Regions from separate parts of the Homo sapiens genome. Here all the other regions are linked to region 2. Evidence: fine-mapped expression QTL. A gene starts in region 2. Each other region holds a variant in brackets. All regions are shown on one strand. Distances are from middle to middle.

Evidence for each region. PIP is the estimated chance that this variant, and not a neighbour inherited with it, causes the effect.
Region 1: its variant is fine-mapped to the expression of KCNJ1 in unexposed skin (GTEx, PIP above 0.99). The same link has a PIP of 0.9 or more in lung.
Region 3: its variant is fine-mapped to the expression of KCNJ1 in sun-exposed skin (GTEx, PIP 0.98).

Annotation. Positions count from the first base shown.
Region 1 is chr11:128,898,211-128,906,391 of GRCh38, reverse strand. All of the region lies in intron 1 of KCNJ5 (potassium inwardly rectifying channel subfamily J member 5), which reads right to left. It overlaps KCNJ5-AS1 (KCNJ5 antisense RNA 1), which reads left to right and starts at 161. Exons shown (of 4, transcript NR_045767.1): 1 at 161-243; 2 at 1,781-1,961; 3 at 2,881-3,025; 4 at 3,679-6,827. RefSeq lists a silencer at 1,227-1,296 and an enhancer at 4,004-4,762. The variant C/G (reference allele first, on the strand shown) is at 3,332.
Region 2 is chr11:128,863,656-128,871,836 of GRCh38, reverse strand. It overlaps KCNJ1 (potassium inwardly rectifying channel subfamily J member 1), which reads left to right and starts at 4,541. Exons shown (of 3, transcript NM_153766.3): 1 at 4,541-4,664. It overlaps LOC107984409 (a long non-coding RNA gene), which reads right to left. Exons shown (of 3, transcript XR_001748442.2): 2 at 7,827-7,940; 3 at 4,658-5,087. RefSeq lists an enhancer at 240-1,002.
Region 3 is chr11:128,918,520-128,926,700 of GRCh38, reverse strand. It overlaps KCNJ5 (potassium inwardly rectifying channel subfamily J member 5), which reads right to left. Exons shown (of 3, transcript NM_000890.5): 3 at 5,538-8,181. Among named protein-coding and RNA genes, the nearest start is that of KCNJ5-AS1, 16 kb to the right of the region's middle. RefSeq lists an enhancer at 1-313. The variant C/T (reference allele first, on the strand shown) is at 3,755.

The DNA of each region.
Region 1 (8,181 bases), 35 kb before region 2:
GTTTCCAGCCACTATGTCTGTGGTCATCTGTTATGGCAGAAATAGAAAATCCAGTACAGAAAGGGAAGTCGGATCATAAACAGTTAGGAAGGCTGACTCTGGCATCAGATGACCTAGGTTCCTATTTTGCCTGGAGCTGAGGCACATTTGGAAAAGTTACTTCTCTAAGCTTCCGTTGCTTTATTTGCAAAATGGGGATAACAGTACTCACCAAAAAGAGCTGCTGCGAAGATGAAATGAAAGGTGTGTGTACAGTGCCTGGTTTACAGGAGCCCTCCTGAGAGGTAGCTCTTAGGATTTTCCACCAGGGGGCAGGGCTGGGAAAGGGGCTGGAGGGGTGGGGGTGAGGGGCAGGAGTGCTTCAAACGCCTTGAGGATAAGGAAGGAGAATCAGCAAGTCCCGAGTTCCTACGGTGTGTCAGCATCGTGCTCCCACTCCCGGGAGAGAGGCATTATCTTCAGTTTACAAAAGGGGAAAACAGGTGAGAGTTTAAAAACCTCGCCCGGAATCGCACGGCTAGTGCTGCAGGCTCCCCGGATTCCGCAGCAGCTGCTCTAGATGAGGGCATGCCTAGAGGCTCTGCTCCGCTGCAGCGTCTACGAGACCGGGAACCCGTGCCCCTTTCCTCCCCCCGCCCCGCCCCCCCAGAAGCCACGCCTGAGGAATTTTCTAAGACCTTTCCCTTTCGTCCCTCCCACGCCTAAGGTCCAGGTCCCAGGGCTTTCCCTTGCACCTTCATCCCTGGCCCTGCAGAGGCCTGCTTCTCGCTTCCGGGGTCGCCAGAGCGCCCCTCCCGCCACCCCGCCATCTCTTGGCCGGATCGTGCGAGAGAAGGGGAGGAGGTTGGGACGGGGGAGGGTGGCTGCGACAGGGGAGGGGAGCCTGGGAGAGGTGGGGAGGGAGGCTGGGACGGGGGAGCCCCAGCGCGGCAGGAACCGGGAGCCCTGAGCGCCACAACGTCTAGCGTGGCCTCGGAGGGTGACACAGGGGAGACCCCTCACCCCGCAGGGGACGAAGCCCCCAGTGCGGCTGGATAAGGCGGTGCTCGACGCCTGGGTGTGGCCCCCTGGCCAGCTGCAGCTCTGCGGCTGCGGAGGAGGCGGGGCTGGGGGATGCGGGGTGGGAGGGTGAGAGCCAGGAGGGGCCTGCGGAGGGGAGACAGAGGCCCTGTCCCCAGGGAACGGGCGTGGGGAGGCCGTTGGCAGTGCCGGGGACTCCCCGCCAGCGGGTCTCTCTTCCTGGAGGAAGGGCGGGCCAGCGGCCCCAGCCACCCAGAGACTGTGCCCAAGCCACACCGGTGGACAGGATCCTCCCAGGGGCCAGTCCTGGTTTCCCAGCTTTTCACAATTACCAACCTTAAAACAAAACAAAATTATCCTCTAGTGTACTCGGAGGTTTAATGGCACAGAGCCCGGTGGTAATAAATCTTTAAAAACCCGTCAGGTATTTCATTTAAAAACCGCACCATTTTGCAGCTATTTGTTCTATCAACTTAGGTCTGTGTCTATTTTTGAATTTCTGAACGTTTTACGGGTTTGCTTTTTGAGCCTGTTTGTTTCATAGCACATGATGGAGTAGGTGTGAAATCCCAGTGGAAGCTGACACAGGGCTTCACTCACTCAGTCAATTAGTCAGCGAACCCCCACTCAACACCCACTGGGTGTTTGAATTATGTTGAGCTCTGGGGATAGAAGGAGGTCGACTCACACTTCACTGGCATTCGTTCCTGTGCTTTCCCTTCCTGGGGATCTGGCTAAAATGCGGGTTCTGATTCTGTAGGTCTGGGGTTTCCAGAGTCCGCGGTTTTGCTAAGAAGCCGCAGTGATGTTGACGCGGCTGGTCCTCAGTGCACACCTGAGTAGCACGACCTCTCCGCCCTGGACGCACGCTGCCATCAGCTGGGAGCTGGACAACGTGCTGATGCCTAGTCCCAGAATCTGGCCCCAGGTGACTCCAACAGGTAATGAGATTGACGACCCTTGATGCGTTCTCTGTCCGCAAGGAGTTCCTGGTCTGGTGGGGAGTACACAGGCAAAAAAAATCAGTGCAGTAGAGAGTGAGAGAGAGGCCAGGGTGCAGTCCTGAATTTGGCTTGTCTGGGGTGGGCGAGGAAGAGTCAGGAAGGCCCTGGTGAGGAAGGCGTCCAGTGAGCAGGGTGAGGTGGCAGAGCCTTGTGGGCCTGAGAACAGGGGAGCAAACAGTAATAATAGCTCCAGCATGGAATCCCTGTTCTGTGCCATCTTTGTGCTGAGTGTTTTTCATGCATTGTATCATTTAATCCTGAAACAGATCTATTAAGTCCGTTTTAGTCGCCTCATTTTACAGGTCACAAAAGCAGAGTGATGTGGTAGCTTGCTTCAGGCCACACAGTTACTAAGCAGCGGGCTAGGTTTTGTCTGATTCCAAAGGCTCTAAGTGCAGCCACCGCTGCCTGGGAGGTTGGTTCCTCCTGAGCCCTCTGGGTGTGATGGGGTTGTTCTGAGTCCCGGGGGGAGCACCAGGGAAGGAACTCATGATTTCCTGCCATGTGGTCCGCTGTGCACAAGCTGCCCGGCAGCTCGGGTCACTTCCCGCCAGCCAGGGCTGTGTTCTCCCTCTCCCTCCTGCTCCCCTCCAGCATGCTCCCTACTCATCTAACAGCTGCTCCTCGGTGTTTCTAAGCACAATACTTGCCCCCAGAGGTCCCTGATTGCTCCCAGGAAATAAGATGTCCATGCATCCCAGGTAACACCTGTCATTCTGGCATCATCACCAAGAGTGCCCCGTCACTCTCTGAAGGTCTGCTTGGACAACGGCCCCCGCAGTAGAAACAAGACCACTAACTAGCAGCCACTGATTTCATTCTTAACACCCCTTCACTGGATTCTCCTTCATCTAAGGCAGGTCTGCCTCTGTCAGGAGTGAGGGTAACACCTCCTCACTCTGGAATTTCTCAGCTGGGCAGGATGTGCATGCCATAGTAACCAGAACCTGTGAGTCTGTGCTGAGCTCTGCCGTCTACACCCACGGCTGTGGCTGTGTGAGGTGAGTGCAGCTGCCGGATCGCGTTCTTCCAACACAGACACACTCTACATCCTTCTTGGTCACGTGCAATTAGTAGGCTTTCTCCTATTTTTATTTAAATGGGATGTCTTAGAGCTTCATTTTCATATTTTGATGTAGAGAAACATTTAAAATGTTGCATTCTCTTTATTTTAGGAAAAGCACATATACAAACCCATGATAAATGCAACCAAAACTTGCCCTGGGTTTGGGGGACATGGTAGGGGGTGGTGGGGACTGTGGTGAGCTGTACACACACGCAGTTCTAAAGCGGCAGCTGCTACTCGG[C/G]TCTAGTTCATTATTGCCTTGCCATGCCGTGGAGCCAGTACTGCAAGATCCTCCCTTTGCTTTTTCCAGAAAAGCCAGAAATTAAACTTTTGAAGATGAAATTTTTTTTCCATGTTGACCACTAATTCAACAATTTTTGAAAAAGTGAGCAAGCCATAGAGAATCTATGTGTGAGTCAGATTCAGTCTGTCAGCTGCCGGTTCGTATTTCTGGGCTAGGGAGTCGGAGAGAGGCCTTTTCTGCCCATGGACATGTTGGGCTGCGTTGTGAGTTAGGCTGAGAGTGCTGTTAAGAGTTGTGGTAGTGCCACTGAATTCCTCTCACAGCCTCCCTGTTTGCACCAACAGGTCTGCCACAAACATTACCTGTCAGTCCTCAGGACAACAAAGGCAGGCGGCCCGGCAGGAAGAGGAGAACTCAATCTGCAAGGCCCATGATAGTAGAGAGGGCCGCCTGGGCTACCCCCTCAGTGCCCATCAGCCTGGTTCCGGTGGTCCTAACTAGCCCTGTCTCCTTGCCAATAGCCCTGTGCTCCCCAGCCCCCTCCCCCATGCAGACGGCTGCTATGACATCCCTGTTCCTTAAAGTGCGGGGTTCCTCGCTGCCTTCTCCTCCCTAACTGGCACCCTGTGCAAACCTGCTGCAGAGAACAGTGTCTTGGGCAGTGCGATAGTCCTCCAGTTCACCAACAGTAAAAATGGTCTCAATGGGGAGAGATGTCTGACTGCAAGCGCTGAGTCCTTCCAGAGGAGGGCTGGAGGGACAGGAGGGCGGATCAGGTGGCCTCCTGAGCTGGTTCCTGGCGCCGATGTAATGGATGCTGATTACCAGCGGTGAGGGCATCGTGGAAGGGACTGCAGAGGTGTGCGAGATGAGTGGAATGAGGCCCCAGGTGCTGATTTTTATGCCCAGGATGCTCCTGGCTGTCATGGGCTCCCAGGGGCTCCAGGCATGCACAGCTCTTCCGCCTCTTCTCGAAGCAGAATGCCCCAGAAAGGGCACCTTTACTATCCAGGGTGGCTAGAGTCGCCGGTGGCTGTGCGTGGGGGCTGAGGGCTAGAATCAGGGCAAGGGGCTTTCAGTGAAACGCAGAGCCAGGCAGGGACAGCGCGGATCTCAGAACAGTCTTTGTCAGATGGGACACTTCATCCCCGCGGAGCTGTCCGTGCACACAGCGTTCTCTGATTGCCAAGCTGTTAAGCACTCTGCGGAAGGGAGCTGCTGGGAAGGCGGACGAGGCATCTCAGGTGGGTGAGGGGCTCCGCTGCATCAGCGTTGCTCAGACCCACCATCCCTGGGGAGCTGTCACTGACGCCCAGGTTTCCCCTTCTCAGTACATCCTGTGCCTCCTTTCTGGGCTGCCTCAGTCCCTCAAAGGGGAGCTCCCCACATGGGTGGGATTATTGTTGAGAACAGTCAGGGTGTTGACGAGGATGCAGGACTGAGGTTGCTCCCAGAGTCACTCAGTGTCCCTCGTTTTGCTCGGAGACATCCTGACCTGGGCAAGCTCTTTAGGGAGCATCTTTCCTGTCTGTGCCGCATTCTCCATGGCCTTTGCACTCTTTTTGCTTTTGTTTTAAACACGTCATCAATTCATTGCCTGCAGCAGCTTGTACTGCCTTTTGGTTTTTCTTTGCAGAACAGCTCTGGAAGTGAAGTGTGTGTGTGTGTGTTTGCGTGCACTACTCTGGACTGGGTGCCTTACACGTGTTAACACACTTGATCAGCTCAGCAACACTGTGGAATAAGTGTAATGTGTCCATTATTCAGATCAGGAGACTGAGATTCAGAGCAGGGAGGGAACTTGCCAGAGACCACATGGCTTGCAAGCAGCAGAACCTGGGTTTGAACTGACAGCGGCCTGACTTCAGAACCCACGCTTTCCCACCCTCCTACTTCACACCCATTTGAGTCCAGCCATCTTGGTTCTGAATCATAACCCTGACTCTCCTGGCCACATCCTATGCTCCACATTACATGTTACTCTACAGGTTACCACCCTGGGTCTCTTTCCTATATAAGAAATAGAAATATTTGTGGAAATCCTAATGTTCATGACATCTCTGCCATTTTATCAGGAAAAATTCTATCCTACCAAATACTGGTATAATGTACTTGGCCCCCCTGGATTGGATTGGTATAGGTTAAGAGCAGATATAAGGTCTGAAATAATCCCGGTATTCCTAGTATGTGGAATTATTATCATGGAATCATAATGGCAGTTTGCACCTCTGTTGGGCTCTTTCAACTCCTGTGTTGGCTCAGGAGAATCCTATCACATTAGTCCCCTTTTGTAGTTGGATAGTTGGGCTTGCCAGAAGGCACACAAATTTGGGTTAACTCATTTCCAGGATTCTGGCATTGTAGACACAGAAACACCGACTGTGAAGTTTTATGTAATACAAACACTGGGAGATTTAGCAATAGGCCTGCCAGGCGGCCCTGGCTTCTGGCTGCACAACAAAGGGGGGTGGCTGGTGCTGAATGGGGCAACAGAAGGTGAGTTTGGGGCCTGCAGAGCCTCGGGTAGCCCAGAGGAGCGAGAGAGTATTGGCTGTTCATTTTAACTCCATCCTTGGAGGATTCCCCACCACAAGCCTAAGGAAGTAATAAAACCTCATGCATTATTTTTTGATATCTGGAGAGAAACACGTACCCTAGAAATGCTGTGGACTAATTCCATGGTTACTTTGTCATTAAAGAAACCAAAATACTGAGAGGTCACCATAAACACAAAAAGGCAGAGAGAGAAGGATTAAATGGTGTTTCATGTAAGGATCTTTAAAGGGAGACAGAATTCTAGTCTGAAAGGAGCGCAGGCAGATCTGGCATTTTGCTTGGGGAGTTCAATTCTTTGGAGAAAATACAGAGACAAAAAGACCATTTTGATGGTATTTAAAATATCCCTCTGCCCAGTGTATCTAAGTGAGTCTAAATATATTCAGCAATTTTTTAAAGGGCAGATATTAGGCCCGATTCAAGGTATGGAATATAGATTCGAAAGGGTTAGTGATAGGTGAGTGCCTTTCAGGTAGCTTTGCATCACAGACCAAGCCCATTATTGAGGACTGTACGTATGGAGCAGGCCCGTGAGCTTGTGACTGAGTTTCCCAACCTGCCAGGCTCCCATTTGCTTAGGATGAATATTTTTCTGCCCTCCCTGGTGAGCCACTGTGGGCCACTCGCCACTCCTTACACCCCTTCCCTTTAATACCTCGCTTGGCTTACTTGCAAAATCCACATGCATCCTCCTGGATCTCACAGAAGATGTATGAAAAGTCATGGCCATGAAAAGGGCACGGAAATCAAATTAATTAATTTTGCTTTTTCCCCACGTTTGTTTCTGTCTGTCTGGTACTTTTCCTTTTTAAGCCTGCCATCTCTTTGAAAGTGAGCCGCACAGTGATAATCCATTTTCTTCATTGTAACCCCACAGTGTATGTATTCCACATTAAATAATAAAAGGGATTAATAATTAAATCAAAATGAAAAACCACTTGTTTCCTGTCTATAACCCAAGGGACAGATTTCCTGGGCTGGTGCCAATTTATCAGTGATGATTAGGGAAGATGAGGTAGAAGTGCACAGAGACAACAGCCTGAAAGCAAGATAATGTGAGTTTGAATATATTCATATACAAGTGAAAAGGATGAGATGGTGAGGGATGGTAAATGTGAGAAAGAGCCACAGAAACTGGACATAACAGGTAAAATCCCAGTAATTATCGTCACCTACTGGGGCTGTACCATATACCCAATTTTATTCCAAATGCTTTACATGTATAAACTCATTTAATCATTTCAGAAAAGGTACCAGGTAGATACTGTTCTCCCCATTTTATAGATGAGAAAACTGAGGTGCAGGAGGGTGAGTCAACTGCCCCAAATCTAGTAAGTGGTTGATCTGGAGTTGAACCCAGGCTGAGTGGCCCTTGACTCACACTCAGTGTCTGAGCAACTCCACAAAAATGGAATGCTTAAATGATTCAAGAAAGAGGAGATAGACAAATATCATGGGGTAAGAAATGAAACAGAAAAATCCATTGAGAATAAGAGAAAAACAAAGTGAAAGAAATAGGAAAGGCCAGGCACGGCGGCTCACGCCTGTAATCCCAGAACTGTGGGAGGCCAAGGCAGGCGGATTACCTGGGGTCAGGAGTTCGAGAACAGCGTAGCGAACATGGTGAAACTCCATCTCTACTAAAAATACAAAAAAAATGAGCTGGGCGTGGTGGTGAGTTCCTGTAGTCCCAGCTATTCGGGAGGCTAAGGTATGAGAATCGCAGACAGCAGAGGTTGGCAGTGAGCCGAGATTGCGCCACTGAACTCCAGCCTGGGTGACAGAGTGAGACTCTGTCTAAAAAAAAGAAAGAAAGAAAGAAATAGAAAAATCAGAGTAAGGAGTTGAGAATGAAAGAAGGATTTAAAAAAGCAAAGGACAAAAAGGAAAGACAAAGTGAAGTGTAAGTGGATGTGGGCATTAGAACGAAAGCTGAGGAGGAGGAAACAAAGAACAGATGAGAGACCCAGCTGAAGGGAACTGCATCTTGGCGCTTGCCATGGGGCACTGCTCATGCGCTAACTTATTTGACTTTCCCATGGCATTTCAAGGTAGGTGTTATTAGACACATTTTACAGAAAGAGAACTGAAGGTCTGAAAGACTAATGTCCAAGGCGACACAATTAGTTCATGGCAGAGCAAAAAGAACTGCTGACAATTACAAAATGCCAAAGAAAGAAACTGAAGAATAGCAAATAAATGGAGAAACATACTGTATTCATGGATTGGAAGACTCAATATAGTAAAAACGTTGATTCTCTCTGAATTCATATACAGATTCAATGCAATTT
Region 2 (8,181 bases):
TGGAATATTAGTCATGAATAGGATAATATGTTTCAAATGTTCCAAACTTCTTTAAGAGAAAGAGAAAACCGTCTGTTGACTCTGGTCTTCACTCAGGTCCAGCGGCGGGATGCTCCAGGTCCAGTCTGAGGAGTAAATGCTGGGCGTGTAACCTCATCAGTGTTGGGAACCTGGTGAGGCTACACAGCACAGAGGGGCCGGACTGCATCAGGGAAAGAGGAGTTGGGCTGTCTTCTCATTGTCACACACAATCCCACCATGGAGGACTCAGGCTGTCTCATGGCTACAGAGGTAGTGAAGCAGTTGCCAGGCGCCACAGCAGGAACGGAATTTCTCCGTGAAGACAGTGGTAAGGCGGAAGGACTGAGAGTGCATCCCGCTGGGGTACTGGAAGGTGTAGGATTCCATCAGGGCAAACGCTATCATTTGTGCTTTAAGACTAGGATTTGTGGAACAGGGAGAATGCATCCCCTGCCCTCCCTGTTGCTTAGCAACAGTCCTCTTTCTCATTCCCAGCAGGTCCAAAAGGGCCCAGTTTTGAAGATTGGGGGCAAGGAGTGGGGGATGAAGGTAAGATAACTCCCTGGTCTGCATAATAATGAGACATTCTGGCTCCATTGTGCAAAAGGTACCTGCCTTGCAAATGAATGAAGTAGTTAAAAAACACTTCTCCCTGTTTGGGGTTTATTCTGTGAGGATGAATGCTTACCTGGGGGAGACACATGTTTCTCTGTATGTGTTTGTATTTCCACAGCTGTCTGCTGGATCACAAGAGTCAAAGACACGCCTTCAGCCCACACAGGTGGGGAGGCTCAGAATGCCTGCCCCCTAGGGCCTCCACGCTGGACATTGGGTCAGGGAAGCCCCCTTTCCTGAGTTGTTCTGTGGGACTCCAAAGGGCCTCCTGCCAAGCTCTCTGACAGTTCACATCCCATCTGAAGAGCCTCATGCACCAGTCCAGGGCCTCTGAGAAGCAGATGCCAAGAGGGGATTAAAAATGCCAAGATTTTGTTGGAGGAGATGCCCAGGTGAGGAAAGTCAGAGGGAGGCTGTCTGAGGAGTTTTCAGACCAGGACTCAGGGCAGACCCTGAGGGGAGGAGGGAGAGCAGGTTGGGAGGATGCATCCTAGACTGCCATGGAGTCTAAGGAAGATTCCACGGCCGTGCAAGAGTGCTCCAGCCAAAGGCACCCTTGGAGGAGCCCACCTCTCCCGGGGACTGCCTCCCTTCATGTCCTCCTGTGCTCAGTCCCTTCAGAGTGCAGCCCCTTTGGCCTTGGACACTTCCTCTCCCTGCGTTTCGTTGGGCTGCAGGGCGTGTTCTCCTGGCCTCCACACCCAGGCCTGCTCAGGGGTAGGGTTGGGTGAACCTGAGGCTTGGGAATATCCCACTGGGGGGATTGGGAGGCCTGCAAAGGTAGGTAGAGGGCCACGCAGTGAGGGGTGCAGAAGGGAGGGCCTGTGGACAGAGGGGGTGAACCCAAGGACGGCAAGCAGCAGCAGGGACAGGCGTGACCACAGGAGGCCACCTGTGAAGGGAGAAGGCCAGATTTAGCAGGAGCGTGGACTCCCCGCCTGTTGCTCTTTCCCCCACCATGTTGTAGCTCCTTAGTGTGGGTCTCCTCCCACCTCACTTCGCATGGGAACCCTTCTGCAAGTGGCTTCACTTACACCTGTGTCTTGTTCTGTCTGGGCTGCTGTAACAAAATATCTGAGGCTGGGTAATTTATAAACCACAGAGAGTTATGGAGGCTGGAAGTCCAAGACCAAGGCACAGGCAGGTTTGATGTCTGCTGAGGCCTTGACCACTGCATCACATGGTGGAAGGCAGACGGGCAGAAAGAGGACAAACACTGTGTCCTCACAGCAGAAGAGAATGAACCTCCTCCCTCGAGCCCTTTGATAAGGGCCCTAACCCCATCTGGAAGGGCTCTACCTGATGACTTAATCACCTCCTAAAGGCCCTGCCTCTTAAAACTATCTCATGGGGATTATGTTTCAATATATAAATTTTGTGAGACACATTCAGACCATAGCAACCTACTATGTTCTTTTTCCTTATCTGTAATGACTGGTTATGCTTATAAATGTTTGAAAGCAAAAGTGCCTTTTCCGTGAAATTTTGCATCTGTTTCCATTTTATCCCTTCTCTGAGCATCATGGAGACTCAGCTGTCCTGCCCCGGGGACTGGTGTCAGGAACCTGGTGTATGGTCTCCAAGCTACGCTGCTGCTCTGATGCTTCTCATCTCTTTGACTCTTGAGCTGAGGTTGATCCCTCCTACAATCTTGTGTGGTGTTGAGTGGAGGAGGGGACAGGCAGTGAAGGGGCATGTGGCCAGCCCACAGTCACCCACTCTTGCTTCTTGCGAACCCAATCAATGCTTCAAGTGATTACCAGCTGTGAAGTGTGAGGAACAGTGGGAAGAGAGCAACTCAGGAGGGGTGTGGGGTAAGGACTCCTCTCCCTCAGTCTCCTAGTGGGAGATGGCCCTAGGGGGTGGGCTGAGGAGGAAGACAGAAGGCTGACACTCGGAGTAGGTTGGATTTCAACCCTGTTCATTCAATGACAAGTGTATTACATATGCTATCTCTTGAGCTTCCCACTGTAGACTTCTGAGGTGAGAAGCTAGGTAACTTGCAGTTGGTAGAGCAGGGTCTCAACCCCACCACTGAAGTGCAAAGTCTGTGATGTAAAGTTCTGCATTGCCCCGGGACCAGGGTGGCTGGTGAATGGCCAAGAGAAAGTCAGGTCAGCCTGACCTTCTAGGGCAGGAGTCCCCACACCTGGTCTGTGGCCTGCTAGGAACCAGGCTGCACAGAAGGAGGTGAGTGGTAGGTGAGCAAAGCTTCATTTGTATTTTGACCACTCCCTATGGCTCACATTACTGCCTGAGCTCCGCTTCCTGTCAGATCAGCAGCGGCATTACATTCTCACAGGATCCTGAACCCTTTTGTGAACTGCGCATTCGAGGGATCTAGGCTGTGCGCTCCTTATGAGAATCTAACGCCTGATGATCTGTCACTGTCTCCCATCACCCCCAGATGGGACTGTCTAGTTGCAAGAAAACAAGCTCAGGGCTCCCACTGATTCGACATTATGGTGGTGTTGTATAATTATTTCATTATATATTAGAATATAATACATAATATATATTATATGATATATTAGAATATAATACGTAATATATGTTATATAATATTTAGAATATAATATGTAATATATGTTATATAATATTTAGAATATAATACGTAATATATGTTATATAATATATTAGAATATAATACGTAATATATGTTATATAATATATTAGAATATAATACGTAATATATGTTATATAATATATTAGAATATAATACGTAATATATGTTATATAATATATTAGAATATAATACGTAATATATATTATATAACATATTAGAATATAATACGTAATATATGTTATATAATATATTAGAATATAATACATAATATATATTATATTATATATTAGAATATAATACAGAATATATATTATATATTAGAATATAATACATAATATATATTATATATTAGAATATAATACAGAATATATATTATATATTAGAATATAATACAGAATATATGTTATATAATATATTAGAATATAATACAGAATATATGTTATATAATATATTAGAATATAATACAGAATATATGTTATAGAGTATATTAGAATATAATACATAATATATGTTATATAATATATTAGAATATAATACATAATATATATTATATTATATATTAGAATATAATACATAATGAAATAAGGAATATAATAGAATATTATTTCATAGAATAGAATAGAATATTATTTCCTTCTATAATAGAATAGAATATTTCATTATTTCATCCCATATTCATTATTTCATTCTATAATATTATAGAATAGAATAGAATATTATATAATGTAATAGAATATTATTTCATTATATATTAGAATATAATATATAATGAAATAAGGAATATAATAGAATATAATAGAAGTAAAGTAATTATTATAAGTAAACACAGTAGAAACAAAGTTCACAATAAATGTCATGTGTTTGAATCATCTCGAAACCATCCTCCCCCACCACCTCCCTGGTCCATGGAAAAAATGTCTCCCATGAAACTGGTCCCTGGTGCCAAAAAGGTTGGGGACTGCTGTTCTAGGGCCACTGAGTGATTCACAGGACAGGAGACATTTGTGAGGGGCTCCTTGGGGACCCCTACTTCCCTGCCCTGTAACATCCAGCCTCATGTGCGCACGTGTTCAACTTCATGCCTTTGACTTAGACACATCGACATGAGCATACCGGCCTTCTGGTTCCAAGCCAGGGTTCCATAAACAAATCCTTCTTAGTTAGCCTTGGTAGCTCAACACCTTTGGTATCTCACTCACTTAACTGCCACGCCTACTCTTGTTGGATCCGGTTATAAAGTAAACTATGTTCTTTGAGAACTGTTGCATACAGATGAGTTGGCAGCCGGTCTGAGCTGGCCCACAGACTCATAAAATCAACAGGGCCTCGGGTACCCTCACCTAGCATATCCAAACTCTTGCATCAAAGGTGCAGGGACTTGCTCACATCGAGAATCTGGTTGCTTTCTTGGAGACCAAGAAAATGAGTTTTTGTTTCTACATTTACTCCAGCAATCCATGAGGTAAGAGGAGAAACACCTCATTGTCTCTTTGTAGGAAAAAGAAGTTAATTCTTGTGAAAATTTAGACCTCTTTTCCCCGCCTCAAATCTAGGCAGACTTGTCTGTCCACTCCTGGGGGATAGATAGAAGCATGGTTTTAACTCACTCACTGGATGCTTTTGGTGTGCTGGTTACATGTGGATTATTAGCTGTGTGCTGCATCTTGCCTTCCCTGGGTCACTCCGCAGCCCTGGGGCTGGAGGGCAGTAAGAATCTTTGGTTGCATCATGCCTGATTCCAAAGTCTTCTTTTGGTGGCAGAGATGTATGTAGGGTTTTCATCTCTGGTGGCATCCTTTCAATTGTAGCAAGACCTTGCCTAGTAACACAACCTCTGCCAAGCCGTTTCCATCTTTAAGGTAGAGGATCAAGGTGCTAGTGGGGTCTATTATGGAAAACATATATCAGGAAAAGGCAAGAGTTAGCCAGACATTTTGATTACCTTCACCCAAATGTCTTTCTTTCATTTTCTGATGTAGGACTTTATAGGAATTTTGCACCATTCTGAATGGATACATTTGGATTTCTCAACATTTGTTCAGCTTCCTAATGACTGTTGTGACAATTGCTCTATACCAGTGAATGCCAACTGTTTATCTCTGCTCTGAACAGGTATGGAGCCCCTTCTCCCAATATCTGTATCTTACAGATTTGGTGCATAGACGCTTAAAAGGAGTTGGTCTTTCGCAACCAGCAATCTTTAGGAAAAATGATTGAATTTTTCTCCTTTTAGCTGGGCTTACAAAATGGAGCAAAACATAGTGATTGTGCTATGGACCTTTTATGGACAGGGACTTGGCAGAGCCACTCACTGGATGCTTTTGATCTGCTGGTTGTACCTGGATTATTAGTTGCGAGCTGCACGCTGCCTTCCCTGGGCCATTCCGTAGCCCTGGGGCTGGAGGGCAGTTAGAATCTTTGGTTGAATCTTCGGTTACATTGGAGGAGCTGCCCAGTCTTTGTGGGCTCCCTTCAGTCATGGGCTTGGCTTGTGTTGTCTTACTCTACACTGTTTAGTGTAAATGGATTCTCACTAAGTCAGCTTCAGCTTTTAAGAGCATGATGGGGTGGAGATATCTGGGAACGTATGGGCCATCAGAAAAGCATTTTTTTATACTCAAGTCATGAAGGTGGATTTCTTCTGTGTAAGGAGGTGCACCAAGTCAGTGTAGGTGCAAGACTGCCCTTGTAAAGAAGCAGAGTATGTGAATTCCTTGTGAGTGGGTCTTAATCTTTAATGCTTTAATGACTTTTGGTTTGCCTGATTTTTTTTAATATAAGAAGTTTGTAATTGCCAAGCATGCTTTTCTGTGAAGAGCTAAGTCTCAAAATTCCCCATTCACGTTCTTTTCCTTTCCTCAGTAATGTGTTTTTCTGTGCTAGGTTATGAGTCTACCCTGCACCTTGTCACAGCTCAGTGATTGTCCAGGGATTCAGCTGTGACTCACATGCTTTGCCTTTTACTTGCTCCAGGGTTTCCATGCATTGAAGGCTTCCTGGTGCCCTCTCAGTGGAATTGCTTCTGGCCTGGCAGTTTGATCCTGAGGGTGACCCAAATGTTTCTCCCCTTGGCTCCATAATTTAAGATGCCAGTGATGACTATTGTCTTTCTTCTCTTCATTCTTGTCTTTCTCATGACTATTATTATTATACATACAGGTTTTTTTCTTCATTTGCCTTTCAACAAGCTTGTAATTAGAACTCATTGTGTTTTGGATGCTAGGTCCTGGGAAACCACTGAATGGCTTGGGAAATGCTTTGCTCTAGAGGGCAGGTACTTGGGCTAGGGGCTATGTGCATGGAAACAGGCTCTCACACGCTAATGGGAGAGATACCTGATGAGTGGGGACTGTGACACAGAAATGTAGCTCATAGTATCATCGCTGCCTGCACAGAAAAGTACATCATACTTTTCCTACAGAGGACCTCATGGAAGCATGATCCTAAATGCGCTGGGTGGGCAGGAAGGGGCCTACTGGAGGCAGGGGGAAGAACATTCTAGAACAAGGAAATGGCATTTACAAAAATATGCAAGAATGAGAGAGAGCATGACTTACACAGGGAATACCAGGCTGGTGTGGCTGAGGGTGGGTGGCCAGGGGAGGGGTGAGGGAAGCTGCAGGGTGCCACGATGAAGGACCTAGTATGTGATGCTGAGGAACTTGGGCAGTGTCCGGAAGGTGGTGAGAACCGGGGTAAGATCTTATTTACATTGTGGAAGAGTTGCTCTGCCTGCACAGTGCAAGGTGGACTAGAGTAGGGTAAGACCACGGCCGGGTAATCAGGGAGGAGATTACCAAGAGGGAGAAGACACAAAGTCTGGTGGCCAATCAGCTGCAGAGAGTGATGGGGACAGGCGAGGATGAAGTGGAGCTCTGAAACAGGAGCCAGAGACTCCCAAAGTCCGCAAAAAGAGCACACTTTGAATGGCACAGACCCTTTTCCTTCCACTCACCCTCCCACATTCAAGACTGTGATGACCTAGGCTCAAGCCAAAAGTATACAGAAAAGGGCCTAGGCTTTCCCAATCTGCTCTTTCTCCTGAAATATATATGGTTCAGGAATAGTATTAGTACTGCTGTGAAATAGCAAAAAGTGGTTGGCTCGATTATGTGGTTCAGAAATCATCATGAACAAGCAGGGTGTGCAGAAATTGGAAAAAGAAAACAACAAAAACAAACATCTTCAAAAAATGCTGAAGAAAAAAATTAGTGTAGAGACATATAAAAGATAGACCCCTAGAAAAGTCAACAATAGGCCTGGTGCAGTGGCTTACACCTGTAATCCCAGCACTTTTGGTGGCTGAGGCTCATCTGAGGTCAAGATTTCAAGACCAGCCTGGCCAACATGGAAAAACCTCATCTGTCTAAAAATTTGAAAATTAGCCAGGCATGGTGGCACACACCTGTAGTCCCAGCTTCTCAGGGGGCTGAGGCATGAGAATTGCTTGAACCCGGGAGGCGGAGGTTGCAGTGAGCTGAGATCGTGCCACTGCACTCCTCAAGCCTGGGTGATAGGGTGAGACTTTGTCTCAAAAAAAAAAAAAAAAAAAAAAAAAAAGAGAGAAAAAGAAAAAAGAAAAAGAAAAGTCAGTAATAAACCTTAAGGTCAAACCTTAAGTTACCTTAAGGTCAAAGGTTGTTCCTTCCTCCACGCAGGACGATTCTAAGCCATCCTTGCAGAAGATTGTGAAGGATGTGCAAAGTGTCAGCCTTTCTTGCCATTGCCTCGTCAGAATCTGTGAGCAAACGGAAAAAAGAACGATGCTCTTACACATGAAACTCCTGGATTCTTTTTAGAAAAATAGCAGAAAGAAACCAAAAATAGTGCAGAGAACAGGTCGCTTCAAAACTATTGAGGATCCAAAGATGTTCTGCCCTAAGGAGTTGCTTCTCAAAAACTGTTATTAAGGTCCTTAGCTGTCAAATATAAAACCCAACCCAAAAGCATTCCATTTAAAACCAGAGCATTGAAACACT
Region 3 (8,181 bases), 55 kb before region 2:
GCTGTAGCCTGGAGGAGCCCAGTGGAAACCCTCAGGAGATCCAGAATAGCTCTCCGCAGACAGACCTCTGCGCACAGAGGCGGCGAGGAAGGCCCCCGGCAGGGTGCTGGGCACGGCTGGTTCCCGAGATTCAGGGGAAGTCTCCTACAGAGCGCGCTCTGCAAGCCCTAGCTGCGGAGAGGATGAAGGTTTTGCCTGGAATTGGCACTGTCTTTTGATGGCAGATTTTAAACGTGTAAATCATAAATGCTGACCTGATGGCAAATCATTGCTTTTGTTGACAACACCTGCATGTTTAGTCTCTTCTTTCACTATTTTTTTTTTTAATGAATGTGTCCATGTGTTTTTACCCAGTTCTTGCCTCTTGTCCAAGAACCTGGTTCTTGGTTCTTGTCCAACAATGTGGACATTTGTCTTTATAAAATAGAATGATGTTTCTAAACAAACAAAAATTATTCTATGCAATGAATCAGAGCAATCAGCGCAGAACCCTCCTTCCAGCTCGGCTGCAGGCTCCCAAAGGGCAGGGACTGAGTCAGCTTTGTTTCCCCAGGTCCTGGTGGGGTGCTTGGGACACAGAAGGGGCTTGGCAAATGTTTGCTGAGTGTACATCTAGCCTAAAAAGATGGCCTGGAAAGGCGTCTAGGAACACCCTCATTGTACATGAAAAGAATCAGCTCCCAAATCCCTCCACCCTGAAAGGGTTTTGTCTGTTTGCCGGTTTTTGTTTTTTTAAAGGAACAATCTGATTTCTTTTCTTTCTTTCTTTTTTTTTTTTTTTTTTGAGATGGAGTCTTGTTCTGTCATCCAGGAGTGCAGTGGCGCGATCTCAGCTCACTGCAACCTCCGCCTTCCACGTTCAAGTGATTCCCCTGCCTCAGCCTTCCGAGTAGCTGGGACTACAGGCGTGTGCCACCATGCCTGGCTAATTTTTTGTATTTTAGTAGAGACGGGGTTTCACCATGTTGGTCAGGATGGTCTCGATCTCCTGACCTCATGATCTGCCTGCCTTGGCCTCCCAAAGTGCTGGGATGACATGCATGAGACACTGCACCCGGCCACAATCTGATTTTCATACACGGAGGAAGATGGTTAACATGGCTGGGAAATGGGGCATTATGCATAGAAGGTAGGAGGGCTGCAGGCAGAGGCCAGGGCCCAGGGAGTCCAGGATTGGAGCTGGGAAGAGGATCATGAAAGGGAGAGGGTGGGAGGCAGAGGGGGAGCTGGATTTCACTGGGCGCCACATAAAGCAATCCCAGTTTTCCAGATGTACAAATGTCAGATGCATGAGCAGTGCTTTGCAAAATGCAATTTCCCTTTCAAGATGAACACTTTAAGGGCCTTGAAAAGAGACTGGTTTTCTCTTTCAGATGCTGCCTATTGAAATGGATGTGGAAGCAGCTCTCAAGGTCAGGGCTGTGAGCTGGAAGCCTTCTCCACGTTGGTAAGGAGTCTGCATGCCGCCTGGCACCCCACGTAGGCGGGTGGCTGAGCTCATTCCCCAGGTGCAGGCAGGCGAGAAATGGAGCAAGTGATATTGGCCATGGACCCTGACCCTGGGAAGGGTCCTCGAACAGTCTGACCAGCTTCTGACACAGAGGGCATGTGCAATAATACTTAGGAGGGATTTGTCCAGGATGGCTCAGAAATACTCCTGGGTTTACAACTTGGAAATATTTATGAAAAGAACTTAGATTGACCTGTGGCTTTTAGACCTTAAAGGACAGGGTTGAGGACAGCCAGATAGAGCTGTCAGACCGTGCCCCAATGTGGCTGATGACCCGTGACCTACAGGAGAAAGGACGGGTCACACCATCTCAGGTTGGACTCACAGCGGGTCGCCCCGGATAAGCCCCCTGGTGTGCTTTCCCCTGAACTTGGCATGAGATCTGAATTCAGCCCTAGCTCCCAGCCAGGCGTGGGCTGACTCCCTGCTCCCCCTCCCCAAGGCTGCTGCTTCCCTGGGCTTTTTTCAGTTCTTTGGATACAGCTGCGCCTTCCACCCCAGGACCTTCACACACGGCTGATCCCCCAGAGCCCTTGCCGGAGGAGCTCATTCCTGCTCCTGTTTCAAGTCCAGCTTCCAGGCCCCCTACAGCCTCAGTCCCTGTGGCCTCCCCAGGGGCAGCCCTGCTGTTCCTGACCTCAGCCCCCTGTTAGTTTCCCTCATAGCCCTTATTGCGAACTGTAATTCTTTGATTTGTGTATTTTTTCTGTCTGTGTCTCTCCCCGTCCCCACCAGACAGAAAATTTCATGAGGGCAAGAGATCATATTGTCTCTGCTATGGTCTAAATATTTATGTCCCCTTAAAATTCCTTTGTTGAAACCTAACCCCTTAGGTAACGACATTAGGAGGCGGGGCCTTTGGGCAGTGATGAGGTCGTGGGAAGAGGATCCTCGTGATGGATGAGTGCCCTTATGGAAGAGGCTTCAGGGAGCCTGTTGGCCCCTTCCGCCAAGTGAGGACACATGTAAGGCACCATCTGTGAGGAACAGGCCCTCACCAGACACCCAATCTGCTGGCGGCCTGATCTTGATCTTGGACTTCCCAGCCTTCAGAACTGTGAGCAGGAAGTCTCTGTTCTTTATAAATTACCCACTCTAAGGTATTTTTGTAATGCAGCCCCAGTGGACTAAGACAGTCTTATCACTGCTGAGTGTGCAGTGCCTCTTCCTGCTCTGGGCACATAGTAGGTGCTCATTAAATGTTTGCTGAATAATGGATGTGTGGGAAAATTGAAGTAATGAAAAGTCAGAGACCCTTTGGACGTTGTGTGGAGTTGGCTCTGTGTCTTCTGAGATGTCATTTTAATCCTTTATCACAGTGAGATGGTTGTTGGAATGCCCTGCAAAGCTCCACCGATTCCAAAGGGAATGATCAGGATGATCAGCTCCTGGACTAATGTCCAGGTACTGCTGCTGCTGTGGGGTTCTGGGAGACCTAAACAGGAGCAGCTTCCCTGCAAGATTTTATCTAATATTTGAAGACAGGGTGTGTCCATGGGGTGCTTCATCTGAAGAGGAGGAGTGTGAAGCCTCTCCCAGTGCACTTACTGAATGGGAAAGACACCAGGAGATTAAACAGCCACATTCTCATCCATCAGGGCACAGTCTGGGTTCAGTAAATGCTTTTCCCCCTTTCTTAGCTGTTTCCATGAACCAGAACCAGCGGGCTCTCCTCTGTAAGGAGAGAGAAGGTGGGTGCATTCCTGAGTGGTCACGCCTTCCCACTTCCCCAGGTAACTACATGGTGAGGCAAAGAAACAGTTACTCCCTGGACGCTTCAGATCACACAGGGCTGGTTGCAGTCTCTTCCATGAGCATGTTTATCTAACAGGTGATTTGGGGGCTGGGCGTGGTGGCTCACGCCTGTAATCCTAGCACTTTGGGAGGCCAAGGTGGGTGGATCACCTGAGGTCAGGAGCTCAAGACCAGCCTGGCCAACATGAGGAAACCCTACCTCTACTAAAAATACAAAAAATTAGCTGGGCATGGTGGCGGGCACCTATAATCCCAGCTACTCGGGAGGCTGAGGCAGGAGAATCGCTTGAACTTAGGAGGCAGGGGTTGCAGTGAGCCAAGATTGTGCCATTGCACTCCAGCCTGGGCAACAGAGCAAGACTCTGTCTCAAAAAAAATAAATAAATAAATAAAAGAGGTGATTTGGAATGTGGCATCCAGTGGGTGCACACACACGAGTCCTCAGTCAACCTACACGTCACCTCGTCCTCGCTCACTGCTGCAGCCTCA[C/T]CCAGCACAGCCGAGGATCTCTCCACTTACACTTTTGCTTACTTGGTAGAAAAATGAAGCTCAAAGTATATGTTAATGTGCCCAATTCTCAGTAATTTCTCCTCTGGGATGTAGGATTTTTGCCTCCACCAAGTGAGCCAAGGTTATTTGAATAACAACTTCTGAGTCAACATAAATACTCACTTAGAGAAAAAGTCAGCAATGTTTCTGTTTTCAAAACTCCTTCCTAGACATTTATTTACCATAAGAAAGTCAGCACGCTTTATTGCTGGGATCTAACAAGGCCTAAGGAGACATCTGCTCTGCATGCGTTGGCGTTGGTCTTCTTCTGACTGGAACCGGCAGAGCGCATCTTCTGGGCCTGGGTGGGTTTTCTCTTCATTTTTTCTTTGTTTTCTTTTTTTTTGAGACGGAGTCTCGCTCTGTCATCCAGTCTGGAGTGCAGTGACGTGATCTCGGCTCACTGCAAGCTCCGCCTCCTGGGTTCATGCCATTCTCCTGCCTCAGCCTCCTGAGTAGCTGGGACTACAGGCGCCCGCCACCACGCCCCGCTGATTTTTTTTGTATTTTTAGTAGCAGCGGGGTTTCACCGTGTTAGCCAGGATGGTCTCGATCTCCTGACCTTGTGATCCGCCCACCTCGGCCTCCCAAAATGCTGGGATTACGGGCATGAGCCACCGTGCCCGGCCGGCCCTGAGTGGGTTTTCTAAGGGTAACATTCAGATTGTTGCTTTTATTAGATTATATGTCTAGTTCTCCTTCCTCAAATTGCAATCCGAGCTTGACTGACAAATGTGCAAATTCACAGATTCATCGTTTCTCCTGACCTCATGTCTCCATTCTGACACTGAGCAGTAATTGTAGTGCAATCCCCAGGCAAGGGCCATCCCCAGAGCTCCTGGCCTTTGCATGGGTCTTTCCCACCCTGAAGGCAATTCACCCTCAGAGTCATCAGGTAGTTTTGCTCATGGCTGAATTTGAGGCTCAGCACGTGCTTTTGGCCCAAGTCCCACGCACAGATTTGCTGATGCCTGGTTACTGTGGGTGGGCCATGGGGCCAGATGTGGGAAATGCCCCCACACACATCAGAGCTGTTCTGCCTTTCCCAACTGGAAATACTGCTTCTCATTTTGAATCAGAGCCCTGGTGAGCCACTTTATCCTTTCAGTATGGTGTACCTGAGGGATTTTCAGTAAATATTGGCTCTTCGATATTGCCATTGGGTGACCAGAGCAGAAGAGAATCCAATCTTACATCCTCTACTGCTAAGGACATTTTCAACAGAAACTTTGGGACTTCTCTCGAAAGATCCTGAGATCCTTTGCCAACATTAGATATCACAGACTCCTCTGCCCCTTTCCCACTGTTAAGCAAGAACGATCCTTTTGCAAATGTATGCCCTGGCAGCAGAATGCTAGTCCAAGGGCCCCCTGAAGTAGATATTTTTAAAGTTACTCATTACATAGGTAATGTGGGTTCTGAATATTTGACATTAAAGAATGTACAGAAGTTATTTGGGGGTGGCATGAATGACTTAGTGTGAGAACCCATGCTGCCCATAGCTTCCGCAACTGCCGCCTGCTCTGCCTGCCAACACCTGGTTGCAGCTGCCCCTATCCGGCTCTCTCCTCCCCACCTTTGCCCATTCTCCCACCTCGAAACCAGTCTAGATGTTGATACTACATTTTTAGGCTAACAAAACCAAGAAGGACAAGGTTTCTACAACTGGCAATGAGTTTAAACGGGCAACTAGTGGCCGTCCATTTAAAATGAGAAAGAGCTCTGCAAGTTAAAGTCCATTTTATTGTGTGAATTTTTAGCAGTGCAGTGCAGTGGTGTTCTTTTGCATACGAAGATTGATGAATCCTACACAGGGAGAAAAAGATTTGACAGCAGTTTAAGGAGACGTTGTTAGCAAAAACCAAGGCGAGCCGAGTAAGTGGCTTCTCCCCGAAAGCAATTCTTCCCTGTCTAATCTCTTTTTGCAGCTCATTAGTTCTCTGGGAATCAGAAAAAGGTTGTTTCCCAATTATCCCGCCACAGGGGCACATCATGGATGGAAGCCGGGGCTCCGTGGCACAGCATGTGAATCGGCGCGACCCCATCCCAAGAGCCAGGGCTCTCCTTATCTCTGTTGCCTGGGCCCAGCGTGGTGCCGTGGATGTGAGAGTTTAGGCAGGACCACGGCCCCGGCTGTTTGTTTGGGAGGCACTTGGCACCAAGGCCATGCCTCTTATTACTACCCGTGGCCTTGAGCAAGCTCATGAACCTCTCTCAGCCTCAACTGTCACGTTGGTAAGAGCTTCTCGGCAGTGTTTTGAGAATCAAGTGCCTGACCCACGGCAGGCACCTAACACATGCTCCATGGCGCATGGGCAGAGGTGTGTTCAGGGCACAGTCTTAAAAATGACAACGGGCAACTTTTGGTTTTTGGCAACTTCAGTACAAGCAATTTAAGTTTCTCTGGGGCTCACCTCACATGAGGCACAGGATTGATGGGGGCTGGAAGCAAGCCGTGAGATAAGGGGTGTGAAAAAGCGCCCCACTGTTACAGATCACGAGCAGGGACAGTGCTCCCCAGATGGCAGGGGCTCCTCTTCTCCAGCAAGGTAACTGCTCAAGCCAGGACCTCAACCTCAAAGCAGCAGCAGGAGGCGATGGGCAGTGGGTTCTCTGACTACACAGGAGGCCGGTGGGAGGGGAGTCTGAAGGGGAGAGTCAAAGGCAATGCCCATTCTGCCCTGGCCTGGGGACAGGATCCTTCAGGCAGTGGTGACATCTGTCAGGCGTCAGATTGGTGGAGCAAGGAAAATGAGTGGGAACGAGTTCTATTCTGAGTTCCTGGAGGCTTCTCCCTACAGGGGACATTCTCAGAGAGCTTAAATTAAGGCAAGAAACCAGCTCTCCAAACTTTCAGGGTCCGAAAGTGAAATATCACTTTGGGATTTTGGAGATACTCAAGACTGTGGGAATGACCAGCGCATGACCCCATCTTAAACCACGGCTCAGCTCTCTGGGGTCCATCAGATGTGATGGCATGGGCTCAGAGCCATCACAGAACCAAGGGCAGTGGCCTCTGAGTGGTTTGTATGCAGGAGCAGTGTTTTGAAAATGGCTGGGCGTGGTGGCTCATGCCTGTAATCCCAGCTACTCAGGAGGCTGAAGCATGAGAATCGCTTGAACCTGGGAGGTGGCAGAGGTTGCAGTGAGCTGAGGTTGTACCACTGCACTCCAGCCTGGGCGACAGAGCGAGACCCTGTCTCTACATAAATAAATTAATTAAATGTTTTGAAAGTGACCCCTTGAAACTCTGTCCATCATCAGACTCTGCATTTAGTAAGTCCATGTTTATTCAAGAACTTCTAGAAAATGAAGAACTTTTCAAACTTTCATTGCATCAGTTGGTCACCAGGAAGGGGATTTCCTCAGGATGTGAAGGGGGAGTCTTCTTGCTTTTAAACTGGCATGATAGAAGGCAGAGGAGGCACACTGGGGCGGTGTTGCACTAATCCCAGCATGCCCGGGCTCGGGCCAGGCAGGGAGCTTTGGCAGAGGACCCTCTGCACGCTTCCTCTCCTCTAGCCAGAGCTTCTAGACTTGGCTGAGAGATGTGACCTGGTCCTGGCTCACGGAGGGCCCTGGTGGAGTGAGAGAACTGGAGAGTGGCTCCCTTGGTCAGGTGGGGGATGTTTCAGAGTCATAAATGAAGGCAGGTGTGGGGAGGAGCCAGGCCGCTGTCCAGGTGCAAGGCCAGCTTTGCCTTCGCCTTCCCTCCCTCGCTTAGTTGACCCCCATGAGCTCTAACCTGGGGGCACTGACGGTCCTAAGACAGGCTTAGATCTGGCAAGGGGGTGTGGAATGGTTTTGCTGTTAGTAACCCTGGGGTCCAGGGAGTCCCAGGCGAGTGCTGGCCTCAGCCGGAGGGCTCCAGCTGTAGCTCTGCTGAAAGGCATCCAGCCTTAGTGATGGGCTGCCTTTCTGAGACTCCTGGGGGCATGCAGCTCCCCTGCTGGGGCACTGTCTGCTTCTGCTTTCCCTGAGCCGGGTGCCAGCCCATTCCCCATTCCCTCCAAGGCTTGGGACCACAACTGCACACCCTGCCACTGGTGGGAAGACCCTGCCCACCTCTCAAGATCCAGCCCAGGAGCAAAGCTTATGGAGCCCCTCCCTGGGAGTGGGGAGCCCACAGAGGCAGTTCCCGTCCCAGGCTGCCCCACCCCTCTTCCTTTCAGCCCCAGGCCTAGAAAACACTTCTGAGATGAACCGGGCCTAAGCTCTGAAGCCTTCCCTTTGCTCTGCCTCAACTTCCTACCTCTCTGTGGCTCTGCTCCTCTCCCAGGAAGAAGCGCCATATCCAGGGCAGGAAAAGGCTTCCATTCTCAAAGGCCAGTTGAGAGCTGTGAATACTGTGGGTGAGGCCTCCATAA